Regions from separate parts of the Homo sapiens genome. Here region 2 is linked to region 1. Evidence: fine-mapped expression QTL. Tissue or cell type: transverse colon. Region 1 holds a variant in brackets; the other region holds the start of a gene. All regions are shown on one strand. Distances are between the middles of the regions.

What was found. PIP is the estimated chance that this variant, and not a neighbour inherited with it, causes the effect.
Region 2: SLC6A20 starts here. The variant in region 1 is fine-mapped to the expression of SLC6A20 in transverse colon (GTEx, PIP above 0.99).

What each region holds. Positions count from the first base shown.
Region 1 is chr3:45,769,708-45,777,889 of GRCh38, forward strand. SLC6A20 (solute carrier family 6 member 20) reads right to left here. Exons shown (of 11, transcript NM_020208.4): 4 at 6,054-6,281; 5 at 2,798-2,908; 6 at 1,510-1,751; 7 at 502-664. Among named protein-coding and RNA genes, the nearest start is that of SLC6A20, 23 kb to the right of the region's middle. The variant A/G (reference allele first, on the strand shown) is at 3,549.
Region 2 is chr3:45,792,855-45,801,036 of GRCh38, forward strand. SLC6A20 (solute carrier family 6 member 20) reads right to left here and starts at 3,682. Exons shown (of 11, transcript NM_020208.4): 1 at 3,445-3,682. The coding sequence starts at 3,565. It overlaps LOC107986082 (a long non-coding RNA gene), which reads left to right and starts at 3,045. Exons shown (of 3, transcript XR_001740680.2): 1 at 3,045-3,189; 2 at 4,079-4,160.

The sequences.
Region 1 (8,182 bases):
AATAAAACAAAAACTGCCAACAAAACAATGATATTATTTAAGAATACATAGATGGGTAATAGAAATATAAAAATGAAGGTTCTTGCCTTTGGTGAGTAGGGAAAAAAAGGGGGACTTTTTAACTTCATCTCTGAAATGTTCTTTTATATAAAAAAATCTGAGCCCAAAATGACAAAATGTTTACAATTGATCTTTCTGAGTGGTATATATGGGTGTTTGTTATTCTCTCTACTTTTCTGTATTTTAAAAGCTTAGAAAGACAAAAGAAAAAGAGAGAAAGGACAGAGAGGTCCGCCAGGAAGTTTATTATAACTAGCATTCTCGAACAGCCCTCAAGAGAGTGGTGTTAAAGCCTCTCTTCCCCTTGGAGTTGCAGGAAAAGTAATTCAGGATCCTTCTTTATTTTTACAGACCTCGCCTATCTCCCAAGTCAGCAGCTCACCAAGGTTCCCATGAGTGTGTGGAGAGAAGCCAGTCCTTGACCTTGCCTGGGCATCTTACCGTGTCTAGCTCCGATTCCAAGCTGCAGTTTTTGATTTGCGGGAACATCTCGCTGTATTTGCTTGGGTAGGCAGATGCGAGGTAGCCCTTCACCTGCTCCAGGTTGCTGGCTGTCAAAAAGCCATCTTCAAGGTCAAAAGTGTTGGTCAGCAGCAGACTCACCCTGCAGAGCAGACCATCGGATCGACCTTCACTGATCAGAAAGGCAGCTGTCACCAAAGCCTCCCGTCAGCCTCTTCTTTTCTGATTAGGTGAGGAAAGGGAGTCTGTTGCTTGGTGATCTTTTAAAGGGCAGGGTAATTTTGAATGGCACTGAAGAAGCCTCAGATATGAACAGTGATGACAACAGGCACCAAACTCACACAGCTAGGCTATTTTAACCTCTGGACCAACATAGTCCAGCAGAAGTTTCTGTGCTGATGAAAATGCTCTCTATCTGGGCTGTCCAATTTGGTACTCACTGGCCACATATGGCAACTGAGCACTTAATGGTGGACACTGAGCAACTGATTGAAAGTAACAAGGGAATGTACTGAAATATGAATTAAGTTATTTAAATGTGAATTAAGTTGCATTGATTTAAATGTAAATTTGTAAATAGCCACTTGTGGCTAGTGACTACCCAACTGGACAGCATACCTCCTGGATGATGTCTTTGTATTTTGGGCAAGGGGCCACAGAAAGTGAATCCTGCAATCTCTGTGGCTCAGCTAGAGGCTTCTTGGTTACTTCTGAGGTGGGGGAGATGGGGTAGAAGAAACAAAATTTGATCATTGTATGTCCTATTATGCTAAGTGCTCACAACACGCTAACGTGCCCTCATCCCTGCCAGGCAGATGTTGACATGCCCCAGGCCCTCCAGCAACTGGTGGTGGTGTAGGGAGTCCAAATGTGAGCCCTGGATTGAGGACTCCAAAACTGGTGCACTTTGCCCCAGCCCTTGCCCAGGCGACCCTTCAGCTCAGAGCTCAGGGAGGCCTGGGACTCGGTGGGACAGCCCAGGCTTACTTCTTCAAGCAGTTTTCATAATTGAAGGTGGCCTTGAAGCCATAGATGGAGAAGGTGACAATGCTGGCAAATATGGAGGTGAAGCTGTTGATGAGGGACACGATGATGGCGTGCTTCTGGCAGTTGTTGGATGGCTCATTGTAGCTGGCGAAGGCGATCAGGCTGCCGAAGCCCAGGCCAAGTGAGAAGAAGATCTGGGTGGCTGCATTGATCCAGGCCTTGGGGTTGGCCAGCTGCTCTATCTGGAAGGCCAGCAGGGACAGGGCTGATGATCCCTGGGTGGAATCCCAAATGCTCAGACCCGCAACAGGAGAGTAGCCCAGAGAGGGGAAGGAGCTCACCTACAGCACGCAGCCATCAGGGGCACCCCTAGGGCTGGAGACCAGCTCTCCTGGCCCCATCCACTCCCTGGCAGATGAAACACACACCTCAAGCTGCACACCTCCCAGGGCTAAGGTGCTGTGGAGAATACAGGTGCTATGTGGAGGACATAAGGTGCTACGTATCCTCCATAGCACCTCAGCCATAGGAGGTGTGTAACCAGAAGCAGCTATGCTCACCACTATACGCCAGTGCGGAGGTGTGCAATGGAATACTGCAGGGTAAAATAATTAAAACACAAATGGGGCCCTGATTCATAGGCAGTTACTGCACAGGTCTGGGCATTCAGAGATGGAGGGGGTGTGGCCTGGCAGGGGAGGTCTAGGTGTGGGTTGACTCTCGGCACTGACATCGGTGGCGTCTGGAATGGGGAAGGGGAAGGATGACACAGTCATTTTATTTCTAGGGACTGCATTTGCCAAATGAAGAACTTGCCCCATCCCAAAGGCAAGAGTGCACCCTCCATGGATGAACCCTGGGTGTGGGGTGCATGGAGAATGGGTGGGTTGGGAAACTCTGTAGGGAAACGGGTGCGTGGAACCATGTAAGCAGGCAAGCAAGATGACCAGAGTGGTGCTCATGGCAAAAAGCTTGGTCCACAGTCTGAAAGGGGCTTGAGGTGAGGCAGTGGCAGGGGTGCAGCAGTTGGGGGACAGTGAGGATGAAGAGGAGAAGCTGAAAGAAAGACTTAATGCTCCAGAATTAACAGGGAGTGGGGATGACCTGGCTGAGGAGGTGATCCAGTGACTGCAGGTACTCCACACTCCTGCCACACCCTGGTGGGCTCACATCAGCTTCCGTAGGTACAGCGTTGGCCCACTCTCCACCTTTCCCTCTTCCCACCCATCCTGGAAGGTGGCAGGATAAGTGAGGGGTGCCCGTAGGGCCCTTCCGCTTCAGCCCGTACCTTGGGAGTGAACATGTACATGAGGCCATTGGTGGCTCCGTGGAGCGTGAGGCCCCTGATGAGGTAGATGATGAGCACGCAATAGGGCAGTGACGCCGTGAAATACACCACCTGCGGGCATCAGAGGGCAGAGTTGGCCTCCCGGAGCAGTGGGGTCCACAGGACAGACCCATGCCCCATGGAACACCACATCTGGGGTATTCAGGCTGCACCGCCCAGCTGCTGACAGCTGGAAAAGGCATGGAGATTCTTGGTCACACACAGGCTCTGGGTTAGGGCTGGGGAAGTGGGCTGGTGGGATGTGGTTGCTCACAGCTGTGACCAGCACGACATTTCTTATTCAGTAGAGAAGAGGCAAACAGGTACCGAGCCTCTGCCTTCCACCCTCCCTTCAACCTGACCTTATTCTGGAAAGGATTTGAGGTTACCCACAAAAACACATCAGTCACGTTAACATTTCAAAATTGCTAAAGAAATCAGCATGAAAAAAATATATGGGCAATCCAGTAATGAGCCCACAGGAAAAAGCAGCCCATAGAATCTGTGCATAAGTCTCTACCCAGTTTCTGAGCCAGATTCAGCTCTGAGCTTCCTGGTGGCCTACACACAAAGCAGGAACACAATTAAAAGGAAAAAAAAATCTGCAGCTTGGAGGAGGACAGATTTCCCCAGGACTGGGGCCTGAGAGCAGATTGGTCACGAGTGCTCATACAGGAAAGCAGCGAGGTGTAGCGTAGAGGACAATGTCCCC[A/G]TAATAAACACAATAGGAAATTCAGATCTGATTTTTATGGCAACCCTCCAGAAAGGGTTTACTTCCTTAGGCTTTAACATTACACCTGAATGGACATTTTTGTCAACCAGATCTTCTTTCTCCACCGACATGCATCGTAAGTTCAATGATGTTTTGTTAATATCTTTGGTGTTCATGGTAGCTTTAGTAGTCACCTGTCATGCTCTGGGTGATTCTAACTGTTACAAAGCCATAGAATACAGACCTTCAAGTGCACGTGTGCCTATCCAGGAATGGATTTTTTTCTGTAAATCAACTCATATGTGTACCAGAGCCTCATTTGTAAAGGAAATAAATATTTTGCAAGATTGTCTTTTGTGTAAGAGTTCCCTTAAAGTTTGAGTCTCTCTGTGAGAAATATGGCTGGTGGCCTATGTTCAGGTGGGCTTGAATTACACTTGGCCCTCCCTTCCTATTGAGGTGTGGCATCATCTTCTCATCCATTTCCAAGGCCACCAGAATGGCACTCTGTACGCTGTCACCCAGGGGACGGCAGGTGGAATGTGGGGTGTGTCTTTTATCACTGCTTCTTAGCTGAGGTTGTTGTAACTTGAGAAGAGTAATAAATCCACCCAAGATTATAAGAAACCAGGTAAGAGAGATGAAAAGACAGAGCACTCACTCGTGACCAACATCCATCACAATGGGCACTAAGCAGGCCCTTAGGGCCAGCCCCGAGAATTTCCCTCCTTCCCCCAAGGTGAGCAAGTTTCCTGGAGGCTCATGGAGTCCCTAAGTGGGCAGAATTGCTGGACACGTGATCCAGCCTAATCTATTGGAAGAAACCAATTCTGACCACTCTGCAGAGATTCTGGCAGGAAACAAAGTCGATTCCAACAGAGGATGCCAGGAAATGGCACATGGTCTGTGACAAGATTAGCTCTATTTACATAGAGCTGTTGGGGTACTTTTCCCAGGGAGAAGGGTGTAGCTGAAGCAGAGGAAATAGATGATAAGAATAAATAAGTTTTTATGGCATGACATGGTCTTATGCAACACATTTCAAAGTGATTGGGAAAAGGAATGGTCTCTAATCTCTACCTCTGCAGATGTTGCCCTCTGATCTCTTGGATCATGATCATAATAATCTGGCAAACATAAATTACAAAAACATTTTTTATGAGCATGACAGTATGGCCAGGCTCTACGATGGGACTGAGTGGGCTGCTGCAGGTTCTAAGCTCTCTCGGGGAAAGAGCACCTGTGCTCACTCGTCCCTTTCCTCAGCCATGGCACAGGGGACTTTGGGGGCTAAGAGGCTGGTCATCAGGGGCTCTTAGAAACCAAAATAAAATGCCCTACCAGGCATGATACTGGAGTTGTCCCATGGGCCCTGGAATACCATGGGTAGCTCTGGTCTAATGCCTCAAGAAATACATGGGGGGTGGGGTGTGGCTGGAGGAGACAACTCAGGTAGTCAGAGGGTGAGGACAGGTGGGCTCCTAGGACTCTCAGCAGGTGACAGTTGGAATTGATGACATCATTAAGGCATAGAGAGAGCTATGTGGCTACCAAACCAAGACAATGGGAAGTCTTGGGGTGAGGCTGGGCTTTGCCCTCACTAGCTGTGCCCTTGGGCAGGTCAATTTACCTCTCTAAGCTTCAGGTAACTGGGATCATGAAATCTACCATGAAAGGCTGTTGCCAGAATGACACAATGTGGGTGCTCAAGCCGTGGTGGGTCTACTGTGAGAAGTGACAGTGAATGAGACAGGGTGTGCTAGGCTCCGAGACATCTGCTGAAGCTTCAGGCAGGTGGCGGGTGATGGGAACACTGAAAGCAAACCTTCTACGTGGAGCAGACTAGAGATGAAGGAACATGTCAGCCCCAGTGAAAGTGTGAGCCTTGGGATGCACCAAGAAAGGATTATGGAGATCAAGCCCGACAGCTCTGGAGGGTGATTGGAAGCAGCTTAGAACAAAGGGTCTCAAACTCAGCTGCAAATTAGAATCACCTGGCGAGCTTTTAAACCTCCCCTGCCTCCCCACCCAGTGCTCAGGACACACCCCAGACTGGTTACTGCAGAATTTTGGGGGGCGGGGCTAAGGCATGAGATTTTTGAAAACTCTCCAGAAAATACCAATGTGCAGCTGAGTTGGAGAGCCAGTGGCTAGGGTGTCTCGAGGATACATACAATCTTAAAGAAAAGCAAACTCACTGTCTGGTTGTCTGGGTGGTATGGATTTGGGGCTGACTGCTACAGAAAAACTTTTTTTTTCTAAGAAAGTCCTTGTTTTGAGATTTAGGGTTGCAACTTTAACCATCTCTGGCCCTCTCTATAGTCATCTAGTAGGTGACTTGTCCCAGCAACACCATCTGTGCCCTCTGCCCTAACATAGCTGCTGCCTTTCCACTGCAGAGGGCACTCCCTTGGCATTGCCTAGGGTTGGAGACAGAGGCAGCTGCCCCTTGGTGCACCCTCCCACCCACCAGGAGCACCGGGCTTCTGTGCCTCACTGTCCCACCTTGCCAGTGGACTCGGTGCCACGCAGGATGCACAGGTACACCACCAGCCAGGCCAGGAGGAGGCACAGCGCCGGCTCCCACTGCACACCCCCGTTCTCCTGGAGGGACGGCGAGATATTGAGGGTTTTCCTGTACCAGAAGTACTGTGTGGAGGACGCCTTCTCACACTCCTCATCGTAGCCCGTGTGGTTACCATTCAGTGGGCAGACAGACCACGGCAGGGGATCCTGTGGGACCAAAGCAAGTGTTATCCAGGGAGGTGAAGGCTGAGGACAAAGGCTGTGGCAGGGGTGAGGGAGGTGGCCCTGAGCGGAGACTCTTGGAAGAGAAGGGTGCTGGTCCCCGAAGGGCAGGTGGCTGGAGCCCCTGAAGGCAGACTGGGAGTTGGAGAGTTTGTCAGGGGGCACGGGTGAGGCAGGAAGGGGTTGGAGGAGGGGGCTCTACTCTCGTTGCAATTCTACGGGTGTTCCTTGAGGACTACTGAACTCTGTGGTGGGTCCCAGAGACTGAATAGCAAATGGACCACAGCCAGGCCAGCCCTGATGATGGAACTCCGACCCACGGCCTGTGCACAATCAGCTCAGGCACTTAAACCACACCCTCTGCAGCACTGGCCCAGATTGCTTAGGACTTGGTCAATGATTGAGAGAGTCCCTATTTTTTGGCCAACTCAGAACCAACCAGAGAAAGTGACAGAGAGCCCAGTTCAGAGTAGCTTAAGCAGATGAGAGTCTTACTGGCTCCACCCTGCAAAGTCCAGGAGTCTAACTGCTTCAGGTATAGCTTGACTCTAGCTCAAAGAAGTCACCAGCACCAGGTTCTCTCGGGCTCAGACATGCAGGACAGCTGTGGGGCCTGAACCTCATCTCCTGCTAGCTTCCAAACCCAATGTACATTGCAGGAAATGCCATTCGCCACCAGCACTTAGTGAGCACAGAACCTGAGACTTACGCATCTCAGGACTTGAGGAAATCAGCAAAGACCACCCAAGTGAGAACAAGCAGAGGCTGTTTACTTAGGACTTGCTACAGCAAGGGCGATAGCAGCATCGCTTGCATTTGGCGGGGCTCCAAGGCAGGCGGGGATTGGGAAAGCTTGTTAGTGAGAAAAGAGAAGGCTCCAGGTGTGCCCCCATAGGAGGCTGCTGGCGTGTCACTTATGAACAAAGGAGCCTCAATGGTGCATGCATCATGACCATGACCCGAGGCCAAGTGGTAAACAGTGGTGCTGAGATGGGAGGGAGGGGAGGAAAAGTTACTTCTGACTGTGGGGTAGGAGACCCCAACCCTGCTCTTTGAGGACCAGCCCCACATTGATCAGTTTTGCACATATCTGGGTTCTACAAGCCCAGATTTAATTAGACAAAAACGCATCATTAATGGAAGCAAGTCTGACCACCCCACTGGGCTCAATCCCATATTTCACAGGAGACAGAACCAAGGCCCGGGGTATCACCTAATGGGTCATGGCTACTGTGCCAGTAGGCAGCTGGAGCCCAGGTCTGCACACCCAGACAGTGCTCAGGACTGTCCTGGTGAGGACCTCCACGCCCACCCCTGCAATACCTCCCCAGGCCACCCTAGCCTATTGGAATGTGTGAGCTGGTTTCTTGCTTTGACCCATATCGTGTTCAAAGCTGGCCACCAACAGTCCTTCCCCTTCCCATGTGCACATTTCTCCCATCCAGAAGTGGTGTCTCTTGCCTCAGCCTGTGAGTCTGGGCTGTCCTCCGATGCAAGCTGACCAACTGAATATGGTGAAGAGATGCTGTGTGAGTGACTTCCCGGCCCAGGACTTCAGAACCCTGTAGCTAGCCTCTCACCCTCTTGGAGACCAGCTGTGGGACATCCAGGCTAGCTTCCTGAATGATGCGGGTGCAGGGAGAGGGAGGCACGTGGAGGGAACTGAGGTGCCCAGTGGCAGCCAGCACCAAGTCCCAGGCAGGTGACAGGGGTCCTGGTAGACCTGAAGCCCAGTTGAGCTGCCTAGGCTGACATCCCCTTGGGCCATTTACAGCCTGTGTGGGACTGACCTGAGTCTGTTCCCTGGACTACCTGCTGATGCCAGACCGGGCCTGCTTCCCAGGCTTGGCTACACGACTAAGGCACCCGGGGGTGATGCCCAGGCT
Region 2 (8,182 bases), 23 kb after region 1:
ACATTTACTGGGACCCTACTGCCGGGCCTGGGGCCACAGAAGCAACCCTGACCCTTCCCTGAAGTGTGGTCCATGGACCAAGCCTTAGCCTTGCTAGGGAGCTTTCTAGAAATGAAGAATCCTGTCCTCCCCCACAGGCGTCTGGATCAGAATCCCTGGAAGTGGGGTCTAGCAACCTGCAGTTTATGAAGATGCTCAGGTAGGCTACAGTTTGACATGCAATTCTCTAAGCAATTTGGGGTAAGCAGTACAGGCAGCTGAAAGAGCTGGCTTCCTGTCCCAGACAGCAAGGGCTTTGCAGGGATGTGGAGCATTCCAGTCTGAGAGTGATACTGTCCCACTGCATAGTCAGGTGTCCTCTGATTTCCCCCTCAATATTGCAGAGAGAAAATTTAAGAGAAAAAAATCCATATTTCCACCAGTCACACAACTGTTCTCATCTCTCCATGTTTCTTCCGTGCACAGGTTTATGTAAAATAGTTAGTGCAGTATTTGCTTTTTACACCTTAGTGCACACACACTTGCATCCCCGATTTCTTCCTGAACAACTACTGCCTTAGATTTTGACATGGTTGCCCAAGACCTGCTGACTTTTTCAAAAAGAGATTTTGTGAAGTTCTTTGAGCTGCCTTTTATTTTTTATTTTTCTAGAGCAGGCAGCCAGGGCTGTACAGAGATGATTGGTACCTGGAATGTAATCTTCAGAATTAACATTCCTCATGCCGGGCCGGGCCTGGCCTGGGGAGCAGGAAGGAAACAAGCCTCTCCAGTCACGGGCAGAGTCCCATGGAGAGGGGCACAGATCCCTAATCCGTCTTATTCTGGGAAGTATTTTGGCACAGCCTGGCTCTGTGGTTTATAAACAAATTCTTTGTTTGCTGGGGGTATTTGCAGCTCTGCTTACAAGGAAGTTATACACCCCTCTGCAGCCTTTCATAATGTGGCTGATTTTTACCTTCCGGTAAGGGATGGGTTGTAAACTGCCTGGGTTTGGGGCAACACAAATCACTTCTTAAAGGTGACTTTACTGTGCAGTGAAAGGCTTGGGAAAGCCTCTAGCATCCTCTAGCGTCATTTATTCTGTGGCTTTTCCTAATACCTTGCTCATTCACTCAACAAATATTTATTGGATGGCTCCTGTGACTCCATCACATCACAGAGGTTGGGCCGGGCGGAGACAGAGAAACTGAAGAACAATGTGCAGTTCTTCTGACCAAGTGCTTATGTGGCCTGTGAAGTAGTGAGGAGAGTCAGAGAGCACAACGGAGAGAAAGCAATATTTGGTCCCACCTGGAGGGAATGGTGGGAGTTCTCCCAGCAACAACAGCCTCTCAGGTGGAGGAAATATCTTGTGTGAAGGGTTGAGGCACAGAAGGAGGTGCTCATGGAAGTGTTTGGAAGGCAGGAGGAGGTTTGAAGCTGTGTGGCAGGAAATGAGGTGGAAATATTGGACAAGTGGTCAAGTTAGGTGGTCAAGTGCCTACGGTGCCAAGTGGACTGTTCGGTCTTTATTCTGTAGACATGTGGCTGACAGGGTGCCATCCACCAGACCCACACCCTCCTTTTGTCTGTGCACCCACTAATCCATGCATACACCCAGCCACCAATCCATGCTCCGTCCGGCTTCCACTCATCTATCTATCCACCCATCCAGCCGAAGCATCCTCTGCACCAGGCACAGGATTACTTCTTGTTTCTTTTTCTTGGAACCTGAGGGTCTTGAGGTTTCCCTAGCAACCCCTTGATACATATTCAACTCCAGAACTATCAGCCCCACATGCATCCCTCTGCAGACTATTCAGGTGATGGTGGTATTATAAACAAGGAATTAAGTAGTCATGTGACAGTGAGGCTCACCTGGACTGATGACTGGGAAACATGTACCCAGGATAAAGGTATCATGGGTAGGTCTACTGAGCACAGAATGATGTGGAAATCTCATTCTGACAAATAATTCTTTTTAAGAGTCAGTTATAGAGCTGTTAGAGCACATGGTAATGCTGTTAGAGCATATGGCAACATATGCCCTTCACATCATTATGGTGTATTTATGCACTTCAAATTTTAAAAAGGAATCAGGAAATTAAGAATGCACTGTTTTAAAAACTCTATGAATTAACCTTTTGTTGATTTGGGGTAAGGGGAGGAGGGAGCAGTGTTTAGCTCTTGGTCTTCTCAAATGGGTTCATTTTCGTAAATACTTTGGTCTAACATCTTCCATGATCTTTTATGGTGAAAAAAACATGCTAATTATAGAAGTCCTAATACACAAACACACACATACACACACAAAAACACACACACACGACAAGGTAAACAAAAATCACCCAGAAATTTTGTTAACAATTTGATGTCTTTTCCCCATTCTTTTCTCTGCATATTTTTAAGTAATTGTTTTAAAATGTCAAATCCATTTTATATAGCTTTGAATCTGATTTCTCCTCCCTCCACTTAATACAGGATACGAGAAAATACAATTTTTTTTTTGAAAATGCCGCCTTAAAGGCTGCGAAGAGCAACCTTGAATGGATGCTCTATAATTTACTGAACCAATCCCCTTTATTTGAGGGCTTAGGAAGTTGCCAATGTTTTGCTCTTATTAAATGATGGTGACCATCCTTCTACCTCTGTCAGAACTCTGACAATTTCCTTTAGATACAATTCTAGAAACGAGACAACCGAGAAAAAAAGTGTTTTAGATGCTGAGACTTAAATCCCTCTTGCCACATTGCCTTCCAAAAAGGTACTTGGGCTTCACGAGGTTATAGACATGTGTAGAAGGTGTTCCCAGCTTTCCGCAACGCTAGGGGAGTGCGGTAAGAGCGCGTGGCTGGCTGGCTGTCCCCGGAGCGTGCATGATGCTTCGGAGGAAACATTTATTTAAGAAAAACAAAACAAAACAGAATGATTTGCATTTCCTGCTTTCTGTCGTTCCAAACTCAAACCAATCTCCTTATAAAAAATTTAAAGAAATGGCTCAAGATTCTCTTAACCTGAGTTTCAAACCGTTGATTTAAGTTTCGGATCTGAAAGTTGTATAACGAGTTTCTGTTGAATAAGACAATTTCCTACTCACTTTTTACACCTAAACGTAAGGTTTACTCACTAAGACGTCAGACCATTGACACTTCTCTCGAAGAAGGAGACCGCGTCCCCTGCGCTCTCAGAGCCGCAGCCTGGCCAACAAGGGTGAGGGTTGGGGGCTTGGCCGCCCCCGGGATGGGGCGAGGGGTTCCCGAGGGCTTGGGAGGGCGGCTTGGGAGAGAGCTCCGGCTCCGGAACGAGGTGTCCTGGGAACACTCCCGGGTCTGTAACTTCGGACAAATCACGCTCGCTTTCCCGGCCTCAGTGTGCCGTTCTGTAACTTGGGTCTAACCCCGGCTCGCACACACGGCGGGGACGCGCACAGAGTTGGGCTGGGGCCGGGGCGCGGTGGGCACTCACCTCCGCCGTACATCTGGCACAGGTACGGGAATCGCCACACGTTGCCCAGGCCCACGGCGTACGAGATGCAGGCGAACACGAACTGTAGCGAGTTGGCCCACAGCGGCCGCGCTTTCTCCATGGCCCCGGCCTCGGCGCGCTCGGCTCCGGCTCGGGGGTCCGGCACGGCAGTCTCAGTGCGCGGTCGCCAGGCGCGCCGTCCCACCCCGGCTCGGCTTGGGGGTGGCCCCGCGCCTCCGCCGCCGACGCAGCTAGCTGGTTTTTAAATTGCTAATCTCATTAACGGCGCGCCCGTCCGAGAGGCGAGGCTGGTAAATGGATGACGGCGAGCCCCACCCCGCCCGATCGTCGCGGCCGGGAAGGCACCCGAGATTGCAGAGGACAGGGCGGAGTCCCCTGGGGTCCTCCGGCTCGGCGGGGCCTTTCTTCAGGCTGCGGAACTCCTCGAAGTGGGCGCCTTCCCTCGGCCACTCACCTGTCATTTATCGAGCGCCTACTGTGTGCCAGGCGTTGTCTGGGGACACGGCTGTGAACCACTTCCCAGCTCCGTCTTGGAGCTGACATTCTGGTAGAGGGAAACACTTGAATTGGACTGCATGAAATGCCCCATTTTCAACCATTTTTTAATTTATAGAAAGGACAATGTCATATGGTTCAACCTAGCCCACGTATAAGACTGAGAGACGCGAGGAAGACACCTAAGGCAAAGTAAAGGGGTAAGCAGTTGCGGGGGGTGGCCAGGGATGGTTAGGGAGGGCTTCTCAGAGGAGAGAACATAACATTTGCCAGGGGCCAGAAAGAAGTGAGGGACCTTCCCGGCAGTCCCGTCCCCTCCGTCCACCCAACAGCTTGGCCCTGCGTGCCTACTGGGTCCGGGGACGGAATCAGGTTTTGAACTGCTGTGGGGGACTCTACTGCTCAGGCCAGCCTAGGGGCCAGAAATTTTGATTCATTAGGCCAGGGTAGGGAACTAAGAAACCTCGTATTTCTGCCAGTCTTACAACGTGATTTGCTTGAGGGTGGTCACTAGATAAGACAGAGCTTGGTGCTTTGCAGTAATGTGGAATCTGGGTTTGTATACCAACTCTGCTACTGACTTAGCTGTGTGACCTTGGACAAGGCACTTGACTTCTCTGAGTCTCTGTGTACTCCTCTGTAATGCTAACAGATATCTTCCCCTCTCTCCTGCCTGGCAAGGAAGAGCTCATGTGAGGATTAATTGGGAACTTAGCTTACTACCTGGCACAGAGTAAGTTCTCAATAAAGAGGCCATTACCAAGTCTCCAGCAGGCTGAATGAATGAATGGGTAACATATTAATACTAATGCCACGCTTTGAACAGTGCCTAATACATTGTAACAGATAAGAAAATGCTAAATAATAATAATAAAATTTAAAAGAGATGAAAAGCAGAGTTGCTAGTGAAAATCTTACTTGAAGCCAAAATGAAATCAGTGCTCTAGGACAGCTCCTTGTTGGGCTTTCCCTGGAGTTCCTGCCTGTCTGGTCCCAGAGGAGAAGGGTGAGTAGGGTGAGGGAGGTGGAGGCTTCCTCAGACATATTACCTGTCCTGGAACTTCCTACCTCGAAAAAGCAAAGCAGAAAAAAAAGGCAGCACAGCAGGAGAAACTACTTTAATTTTTTTAAACTTCAGATTCTAGATAAATGTTTTTTCCTACCCATTGCCTCCTCCCCAAAGGAACCTACCATCCTGGTGTCTAACCCCATGGGTTAGTTTTGACCTTGATGAAAATGGAATTAAATGGGATGTACTTTTTCTGTGCCTGGCTTCATTTGCTTTCCGTTGTTTGTGGGGTTCATTCATGTTCTAGTGTGTTGTGTAGCTGTGGGTCATTCTCTCTCACTGCAGTATACTTGTCGGTGGTGTGAGTATGCTCCAGTCTACTACTGACAGATGTCTGTGTTGTCTCCAGTTTGGGGCTGTCATGAATAGGGCTGCAATGCACATTCTAGTGCACGTTCTTCCGTAGATGAATGCACTCACTGCTGGGAACTTCTTGGCCTTAGGATAGGTGTGTTTGGCTTTAGCAGATATTGTCAGACTGTTTTCCAGAGTGTGGTAGTACAAGCTGACACTCCCTTTGGGTTTCAGTTGCTTTTGCTTTGCATCCTAACACTTGTCATTCTATTTCTAAAGGTCTGCCCAGTCTTGTAGGTGTATAGTGATAGTTCATTGTGCCTTTTTTTTTTTTTTTGAGACGGCGTCTCACTGTGTCGCCCAGGCTGGAGCACAGTGGCGCGATCTCGGCTCACTGCAAGTGCCACCTCTGGGGTTCGCGCCATTCTCCTGCCTCAGCCTCCCGAGTAGCTGGGACTACAGGCACCCATCACTATGCCCAGCTAATTTTGTTTTTGTATTTTTATTAGAGACGGGGTTTCACCGTGTTAGCCAGGATGGTCTCAATCTCCTGACCTTGTGATCTGCCCGCCTCAGCCTCCCAAAGTACTGGGATTACAGGCGTGAGCCACCACGCCTGGCCCATTGTGCCTTATTTTAACTTCCCTCATGACCAGTAAGGCTGCATACCATTCCATAGGCTAATTGGGCCATCTAGGTATCTTTTTTCATGAAGTGCCTGTTCAAATTTTTTGTCAGTTTTTAATTGGGTTGTCTGATTTTTTCCTACCGATTTGTAGTTCTTTATGTATTCTGGATTTGGGTCCTATGCCAGTTTAGTGTATTACAAATTGCTTTTCTCAGTCTGTGTTGCCTTTTATTCTGTCAGTGGTGTCTTCTAATGAAGAGATATTTTTAACTTTAACAAAGTCCAATTTCCCAATCTTTTCCTTTAGTGTCCTCCTTTGGTGGTTTTTCTTATGTCCTGTTTAAGAAAGCACTCCTTTATCAACTCCAAGGCTGTGAAGATATTCCTGAGAATATATAAGACTCAGGCAAAATGAGTCTCAGCCATCCATAGATAGGGCTACCCGCCCTCCCCCTACAAAGGACTCCTCACAGCAATGGCAGCAGACGGAGTGCCAGCATTTTCTTGTGCTGGTTCCCTGGGCTCCAATTCGACGGGGCTGCCTTTTTAAAGTGGTTTTGCATTGTTTAGGCAGAAGGCTTGTTGCTGCCTCCAGCTATCTGCTTGCATGTTCTTGTTCTCATATATGAGTTATTCCTAGAGGGTACCTGGCTATGCAGTGACCTTCAGGAACTGGGCACTTTGGAGAGATGCCTCACCTGGACCATGAGGCTGCTGGGACCTTGTTGGTTTGATGGAGGCAAGGCCTCTCTTTAATTCCCTACCTCTGAGATCAGGCCAGCACCTCCTTCCATTCATACTGCTATACTCCCTGGGAGCCCATCCAGTATGTGAGACCCTGTGTGGTAGCTTTGGGCAGCACGAAGAATCACCCAGATAACCCCAAAGAGCAGTAAGTAAATGCAATGGGGCAGATAATCAGGGCTCCTGGTAGGGTCCCCATGACTTTCTGAAGCCTATGTGACAGCTCTCATCTGACAAGGCCAGTTGTGCTGCTGGGACTCATAGAGTGGAGAGGACAGGCCTGGAAGGGTTGGGGGGCTTCCGCAGAGAGCCAGCAAGACAGAGGGTGGAGAGGAGTGGTAGGCTGGCAGGTATGTAACCACTGGCTCTCTGCAGAAAAAGCTCTGATTTGTCACATTTGCCAATTTCTGTGGTGTAAACACTTTTACTATGACTTTTTTTTTTTTTTTTTTTTTTTTTGACAGTGTTTTGCTGCAATGCCCAGGCTGGAGTGCAGTGTCACAATCTTGGCTCACTGCAACCTCCGCCTCCCGTGTTCAAGCAATTCTCCTGCCTCGGCCTCCTGAGTAGCTGAGATTACAGGTGCCCACCACCACGCCCGGCTAATTTTTGTATTTTTGGTAGAGATGGGGTTTCACCATGTTGGCCAGCCTGGTCTTGAACTCCTGACCTCACGTGATCCACCCGCCTTGGCCTCCCAAAGTGCTGGGATTACAGGCATGAGCCACCTCACCTGGCCTTACTATGACTGATTCTAAGCTACCAAAGTGATGTCACTAAACGTGGAGACATGCAGTAGCACACCATTGTACTGAGTCTCCACTATCCAGATCCAACAGGCATAGATAATAGTACAGTCAATAATTAGGAAGTGCCAAGTTTTGTGTATTTATTACCTCTGTTTTAAATAACTTATTCAATTGCTAGCTTATGTAGTTTAATTCTTAGTGGCCATGTTTAACAACCAGCCCACAGAATTCTAGAAAATTTACCAGTTGGCTCTCAAGAGTGTGTGGCAGCTGGCTTTGGCATTCAGCAGGGGGATTGGGGCTAGGGAAATCACTTCTGCATGGCAGGGACAAGGGGAGTGAGTTCAGCTCAGTGGTGTCTGGTGCCCCATGGCAATGGGGTTTTCAGCTTAGCTGAGCCCCACTCTGAGTGCTCCTTGGGGCCTCCACTGCTAGTATGCAAGACACTGCCTGTGGACCGGTCTCACTGTGCCCCATGTCACTCAGGACAGACTTACCTGCAGGATAGAAGGCTAGCATGCCTTAGTTATCTGATTTCCGGAAGGGGTGGAGACACTGGGGAGGGCCCTGACTCAGTTGTATGGGTGTGGGCTCCTGGGCCCGTGCCAGGGTTCCTGATTACCCTGCCGACCATGAAGTTCATGCCACTTTCAATAATTTGCTCATCCTAGTGATGCCATTGTTACTTAACCACCCTCAGTGGCTCCCAGTCACCACAAGATAAAGTCCAAACTCCTT